Linked DNA regions of Homo sapiens. The protein of the gene in region 1 purifies or fractionates together with the protein of each later gene. This does not show direct contact. Each region holds a gene or a part of one and is shown on either strand. Other genes may lie near its edges.

The links. The genes of interacting proteins can lie anywhere in the genome.
Region 2: the proteins of PGA3 (region 1) and RMND1 purify together in Homo sapiens (affinity purification with mass spectrometry; one large-scale study listed by BioGRID and IntAct). This does not show direct contact.

Annotation. Positions count from the first base shown.
Region 1 is NC_000011.10:61,202,207-61,206,314, forward strand, and holds the start of PGA3 (pepsin A-3 preproprotein), read left to right. Parts: upstream 1-1,308; 5' UTR 1,309-1,358; coding exon 1,359-1,414; intron 1,415-1,900; coding exon 1,901-2,063; intron 2,064-4,108. UniProt on the Homo sapiens protein: Shows particularly broad specificity; although bonds involving phenylalanine and leucine are preferred, many others are also cleaved to some extent.
Region 2 is NC_000006.12:151,417,627-151,421,126, reverse strand, and holds part of RMND1 (required for meiotic nuclear division protein 1 homolog), read left to right. Parts: intron 1-3,500. UniProt on the Homo sapiens protein: Required for mitochondrial translation, possibly by coordinating the assembly or maintenance of the mitochondrial ribosome.

The sequences.
Region 1 (4,108 bases):
TCCTGCCTCAGCCTCCCCAGTAGCTGGGATTACAGGCGCCCACCACCATGCCCAGCTAACTTTTCTACTTTTAGTAGAGACGGGGTTTCACTATGTTGGCCAGGCTGGTCTTGAACTCCTAACCTCAGGTGATTCACCTGCCTCACCCTCCCAAAGTACTGGGATTACAAGCGTGAGCCACGGCGCCCGGCCAAGCATCCTCTTTCTAAGTCACTCACCCATGAGTATGAATTGTTTGCCCAGATTGCTTCACTCCATTGTAGCTGATTTCAACCCAGTTGTAAGCCTGGAGCACCTGGAGAAATCAGACCCAGGTGGGATCTCAAAGGTGGAGAGGGTGGGAAAGGAGCAAAAGAAAGAGAAGGGGTGCAGAAAGGGAGGGACACAGATTCCAAAGACATACCTGGCCTGTCTGAAGTTTGCCTCCTCCAGGAAGGGAAGGCAGCATTCTCCCGGTGCTGTCTCCCTCCTCCCCCGTGTACTGTGCACATCTCCTTCCCAGACTCAGCCCAGTTGCACCAAAAGCAAGCCACAAGGCCCATAGGCTAGTCAGACGCCCAACAACCCCACACAATGACACTTATGTGGGGAATTGTGTCCTGAGACCCAAACGACTGACCCCCCAATGTGCTGTGAATAAGCAGTGACCACAACCAGTACCACCTATGACTGAGTCGGGGGCTGCTCTCTAAGAACCCCAGCTGCATGCCCTCTGGGACAAATCAGGCCACCTGGGGCTCCTTCACATCTCTCCAATGCTGTGTTAAACGCACTTTTAACCAACTTTGTCAAAATGCTCAGCTGGTAAAGTTTTAACGTAGGCCCTTGTCAATGCTTCAGAAATAAGCCTCTGGCGGCGCGACAGAGCAAAACTCCGTCAGGAAAGTAAGGAAAGAAAGGAAAGGAAGGAAGGAGGGAAGGAAGGAAGGAAAGAGAGAAAGAGAAAGAAGGAAAGAAAGGAAAGAAAAGAAAGGAAACAAAGGAAAAGAAAACAAATAAGCTTCCAGGTCATTGCTTAGAAAGAAAAAGAAAGAAAAAAAAAGAAAAGAAAAAAGAAAGAAAAAAGCCTCCCGGTCATTGCTCCTCTCTCTCTCTGCGGGTCCATCCCCATGGCACCCTCCCCCCTCCCCATGGTGCAAAGTTATAGTGGAAAGTGCCTCAGCTGGAAAGATCTCAGAATGTGGCTTAGGGCAGCCACAATCTTATCAGGAGCTTCTCTGTTTGGGATCAGGGGAACCGGTGACTTTCAGAGGCCGATAAGGCGGGACCCAACTTGTATATAAGGGGCAGCTCATGCTGCTGCTCTGCACCTTCCTCCCGTCTTGCCTTCTCCCTCGAGTTGGGACCCGGGAAGAACCATGAAGTGGCTGCTGCTGCTGGGTCTGGTGGCACTCTCTGAGTGCATCATGTACAAGTGAGTCCGGGTGGTGTGGGTGTGAAGACGCTGCCTCCCACATCACCTTTCTTTCCTCCCGTGTCTTCCTTCTTCCCTTTTTTCTCCCTCTCTATTCAGCTGTCTCCATCCCCCTTTTCCGCCTCTCTCTCTGCCTTTTTGGGAGGCAGCCCTGCAGACATGGTTAAAACTCGGGCCCAGCCTGACTGTGGTTCCCAGCTCCAGCCCTAGTCAGCTTAACTTCTTTGCATTATGGGGCAGAAGTGGGAGCTTCTCCCTTCCTTCCATCTTCCTCTCTTAGATCAGCTGGTTAAGAGTCCAGCCTGGGTTTGGCTCCCAGCTCCAGCACTAGTCAACTTAACTTCTTTGCATTGTTGGGCAGAAGAGGGGGCGTCTCCTTTCCTTCCTTCTTCCTCTCTTAGACCAGCTTCCCTTCCCTTCTGGGGCTGCCACAGCACCCGGTCAGCAGAATCCTTGCCTAATTCCTCTTCCTTCTCCAAACCACAGGGTCCCCCTCATCAGAAAGAAGTCCTTGAGGCGCACCCTGTCCGAGCGTGGCCTGCTGAAGGACTTCCTGAAGAAGCACAACCTCAACCCAGCCAGAAAGTACTTCCCCCAGTGGAAGGCTCCCACCCTGGTAGATGAACAGCCCCTGGAGAACTACCTGGATGTGAGTGTGCGGGCAAGTGGTGGGGCCAGCTCTGAGGACTTGGCCCGCAGGAAAGAGGGTGTCCCAGGGGTCTTGGAGGACGGGCCTGGGCTCTGTGGCTCCAGGCAGTGACCCAGAGTCTGCCCCCTAGATGTCAGTGGCCCAGGGCAGGCAGGAAAGCTCACAGTCAGAGTTCATTCATTCATTCGTTCACTCGTTCATGCAATGTTAATTTCTCTGAGCGCCTCATTCTATTTCAGGGCCTGTGCTGGGCTCAGGGGGAGACAGCAGTGAGCAAACTCATAGCCTAGGAGACAAACACAGTCATCAAGGGGTCTCGCAAAGCAATGAAAGGAACAGGCAGCAGGAGGACTACAGAGTGACGGTGTCACACTGCGAGAGTCTGCCACTTGGGCAGGGAGCCTCCCTGGAGCCACGCAGGAAGAGCGGCAGTTTCCAAGACAACAAGACAGAACTCCGCATAGCCTGATCCCTTGTGCCAAACCCTGTAGCAGGCGGGAGCACAGTGCCTTTGAAGGGGAGCCGAGAGGGAGGGAAGAAGGGTGCTGCAGACTGCGGTCCGAGGAGCCGAGGGGTGGACGCAGAGAGGCTCCATCCTAACTGCCTCTGATTTATCTTAAACAGGGGTGTGACAAGATCAGATCTGAGTTTCAGAAAGATCACCCTGACTTTATTATTTGAGATCCGATAGCAAACACCCTGCCCTCCTGCAGATATTGTATGTCCCCTCTGTGACTGGCACAGGGCACAGGGCACAAAGCAGTGATGCCCGTGGTTCAGAGACTGGCCTCTGCCATCCAGCAGACCTGGTGCAAATATGGGTCCTAGTGCCTCTAAGCCACAGGACCTTGGCCAAGTCATTTAAATACTCTGAGCCTGTGTCTTGGTCTGGAAAACAGAACCACTAATATCTACCGTCAGAGGATGTTGCCAGGAATTAACACGATCATGTTTTCTGGAGTGCTTAGCATGGGGTCTGCCAGGCCCTTGGTAAGAGGCTTAATTAGCGCATTTATTTAGTTCACAAATATTTAACAAATATTGGCACCTCTCTATGTGCCAGAGGCTATGCAAGTTGCCAAAATGATGGTGAATAATCAAAGTTCCTGGAGCTTATACTCTAAAGGGGATGACAAATAAACAACCATGTAAGAGAATTTCAGATAATGATGAGGACCATGACAAATTAATTAATTGGACTATGGGGAACAAAAAGATTGAGAGGGGGCAAATTTAGATAAAGTGGTCACGGAAGGCCTGTTGGCAGAGGGGACATTTGACTAGAGAGCTGAATGATTGATTTTTGATAAAAGGATCAGCCAAGGAAAGATCTAGAATAAACATTTTCCTAGCACAAGGAATAGCCAGTGCAAAGGCCCTAGGGCAGGAGTGACTGGTCATCGCCAAAGAACAGCAAGCAGACCAGTGTGGCGGGAACAGAGCCGGCAGGGGGAAAATGCTGCCACTAACAAGAAAAATACTGGTTGATTGGCGGAGGCGGGTGGATCACTTGAGGTCAGGAGTTCGAGACCAGCCCGGCAACATGGTGAAACCCCGTCTCTACTAAAAATACAAAAATTTGCCGGGCATGATGGCACACACCTGTAATCTCAGCTACTTGGGAGGTTGAGGCAGGAGAATCACTGGAACCCAGGAGGAGGAGGCTGCAGTGAGCCGAGGTCGCGCCACTGCACTCCCGCCTGGACAACAGAGTGAGACTTGTCTCAAAAAAAAAGAATAAAAATTCTGGCAATGCCCTTTCTCAAAACCTGCTGTACACATCTAGACGTAGAAATAAGAAAACTGGACAGGTTTCCATCTTTAAGTGGCTTGCTTAGCTTCTGATAAACAATTTAAGGCACAAGCACTTAAGCTGTAACTTGCCCGGTGCTAGAAGGTTCCACCGCCATCCTCTGAGAACATGCGCTGTACGGATGGGAAGACTGTGACAGACAAGACAATGGCTAAAGAGGGAACAGCAGATTGTTAGGTGCTTGTGGTGCTTAACAGAGAGCAGAGGGTAAATTGGGGGAGCAATCAGGGAA
Region 2 (3,500 bases), on another chromosome or scaffold:
CATTTCATTGATTATAAGCAGGGAGAACTCTTACCCATTAGAAGTAGTTGGGCTGTGTTAAGACTGTACTGAAAGAAATCACGCATGTGCAAAAGAGATCACGATTCATCTACATTAAACCCACATTAAGGAGCACAGTAGGTGTTCTTTGAAGGTAGAAAGACATATTCCTGAATTTGGTTAATGGGAATTCTCTGTAAAAATATATCACTGCATCATAATGCTAAATAGGCTTAATTGCTACAGAAAAGTTTCTTTGAATCTGAGACACCAAGATGCCACTGGAGAGAAAAACTGCTGCCAGTTAAACTATGACAATACTTTTTTTATCAGAGGATTAAAATTTTACACTTACTGAAATATCTTTTAATCTTAGCTGGATATAAATTATATCACATTCCCTCTTGGGCATATATGAAAAGGAAAGCATAAGAAAATAAATTATTTAAGGCAAAGACAAGTAAGTCTCAAGTGCCACCTGTCAGACACCATTAATTTTAAGATGCCTCGAGATGTTAAAATGGGAATAACTATGTCTAAAAACTGATGAATCATTTTAAATAAGTATCTGGAAAGGTTTTCAGCTTTTATTATTCTTGTAGTTGTCCCAGGATTTACGGAATGAAACATCCCGGATGTTGGTGTTTTTCTCACAGGCAGCATTGTCCAGTTTATCCCTTCTAGCATGTGGAATGAGTTACCAGAGCTCACTGCAAATGTTCACCTAAGACTTGTTTTTCCATATTCTCCTTAGATGCTCTGCCTGGAGAGAAGTGATACAGTGTTTCATTGTCTGTGTATCTCTCATAGCTCAGGACCTATAGTTCAGGGTACCAACAAAACTTAAAAACCCATCCATCAGGAGCATCCTGCAGCATATCTGAAGCCTCAAATTCTCTGAGAAGTAGGGTAGAGAGATTCTTCTCTCCTGTTCTCTTGGTCATGCAAGCAGAAATTGATGTAGTGAATTATAATATCCAAACTGAATAGTTAGGACTAAATATACGTAGGTTTGTGAATAGTTTCTATAAAGGCTTACTTTTACTATCCTGTTTCCTTACCTGTACAATAAAAATGCTTATTTGTTAATATAAGGAATGTGATACATCTGTGAAAATAAACATGGCAGATAATATTAGATTAAAAAACTAAATCTAAATTTATATAGGGTATGATCCCATTTGTGTAAGCAAATAAAAATATTCATGTTTATCTTTATATGCATACACATGTACATGTGTTTGCTTGCACACACATGCATGTATGAATACAGAAAGATCTGGAAGTACACAGCAAAGTGTCTCTACAGGCCTGTCCTTGGGGAGAATAAAGGATTTAAGTAGTGTGGTAGCATAAGAGAGCCTACCATTTTTCTGAATCCTTCTCTAGGATATTTTCCTTTTTTTTTTAATCGTGAACAGGTATGTATGTGTTACTTTTTTTTTTTTTTTTTTTAAACAGGGTCTTGCTTGTCACCCAGACTAGAGTGCAGTGGCATGATCATAGCTCACCAAAGCCTTGATCTCCTGGGCTCAGGGATTCCTCCTGCCTCACCCTCCTGGGTAGCTGGGACCACAGGAGTGCTCCACCACACCCAGCTAATTTTAAAAATAATTTGTAGAGACAGGGTCTCAAACCCTTGCTCAAGCAATCCTCCTCCCTAGGCCTCCCAAAGTGCTGGGATTACAGGTGTGAGCCACCACATCAGTTTATGTGTACTTTCATAACTTAGATTTTTATTTAGTTAAACATCTAAGTGTAAGGCCAGGCACGGTGGCTCACACCTGTAATGCCAGCACTTTGGGAGGCTGAGACAGGTGGATTGCTTGAGGCTGGGAGCTCGAGACCAGCCTGGCTAACATGATGAAACCCCATCTCTACCAAAAATACAAAAATTAGCCAGGAATGGTGGTGTGCGCCTGTAATCCCAGCTTCTTGGGAGGCTGAGGCATGAGAATTGGTTGAACCCAGGAGGCGAAGGTTGCAGTGGAGCCAGGATCATGCCACTGCACTCCAGCCTGGGCGACAGAGCAAGATTCTGTCTCAAAAAAGAAAAAGGCTGGGCACGGTGGCTCACATCTGTAATCCCAACACTTTGGGAGGCCGAGGCCAGTGGATCATCTGAGGTCAGGAGTTCAAGACCAGCCTGACCAACATGGAGAAACCCCATCTTTACTAAAAATACAAAATTAGCCGGGCGTGGTGGCACATGCCTGTAATCCTAGCTACTCGGGAGGCTGAGGCAGGAGAATTGCTTGAACCCAAGAGGTGGAGGTTGTGGTGAGCCAAGATCGCGCCAATACACTCCAGCCTGGGCAACAAGAACAAAACTCTGTCTCAGAAAAAAAAGTAAGCACAGACTTCTTATATTAAAATGTAGAAATTAAGAGAGAGAGTGTGTATGTTTATGCTTGCTTGTCTAGTGTTTGCATAAACACTGGAAGGATACAGCGGAAACTAGAAGGGATTACTGATAGGGAAAGATACAGATAAGAATAAGAGTTAAGATTTATCAATTTTTACCTGTTTATATCTTGATCTGCTCAGGAGGCTGAGGCAGGAAGATCACTTGAGCCCAGGAGTTTGAGGCTGCGGTAAGCTATGATTGTGTCACTGCACCCCAAACTGGGTGACATATGAAGACATTATCTCTAAAAAAATTTTTTAAATAAAAAACAAAAAAGTGTGGACATATTAAATTTTTTTTTTATTTGAGATGGGGTCTCACTATGTTGCCTAGGCTGGAGTACAGTGTCACAGTCTTGGCTCACTGCAGCCTCTGCCTCCGAGGTTCACATGATCCTCCCACCTCAGCCTCCCAAGTAGCTGGGACTACAGGCATACACCACCACACCTGGCTAGTTCTTGTATTTTTTGTAGAGATAGGGTTTCGCTGTGCTGTCCAGGTTGGTCTTGAACTCACAGACTCGAGCAATCTGCCCGCCTTGGCCTTCCAAAGTGCTGGGATTACAGGCATGAACCACCATGCCTGGCCCTAAAATTTTTAATAAAAAAAGTTTAGGCTGGGAATGGTGGCTCACACCTGTAATCCCAGCACTTTGGGAGGCTGAGGTAGGCAGATCACGTGAGGTCAGGAGTTCGAGACCAGCCTGGCCAACTTGGTAAAACCCTTTACTAAAAATACAAAAAATTAGCCAGGTGTGATGGTAGGCACCTGTAATCCCAGCTACTTGGGAGGCTGAGGCAGGAGAATTGCTTAAATCTGGGAGGCAGAGGTTGCAGTGAGCTGAGATCATGCCATTGTACTCCAGCCTGGGTGACAAGAGTGACTCTGTCTCAAAAAAAAAAAAAAAATTGAAAACAAAATGAGTTTTTTTCTGTGTACTTCATAAATAATGTTGGTATTAAAGATTGAATTAATTTGGTTCAGAAGTTTGAAACTCATTTGTAAATTTTATTTACATGTTTGTTGGCAGTATTTTGCAAAGGTCAGCATTAACAAATGTTTTCAGCCACATGCAATGCCACATGCCTGTAGT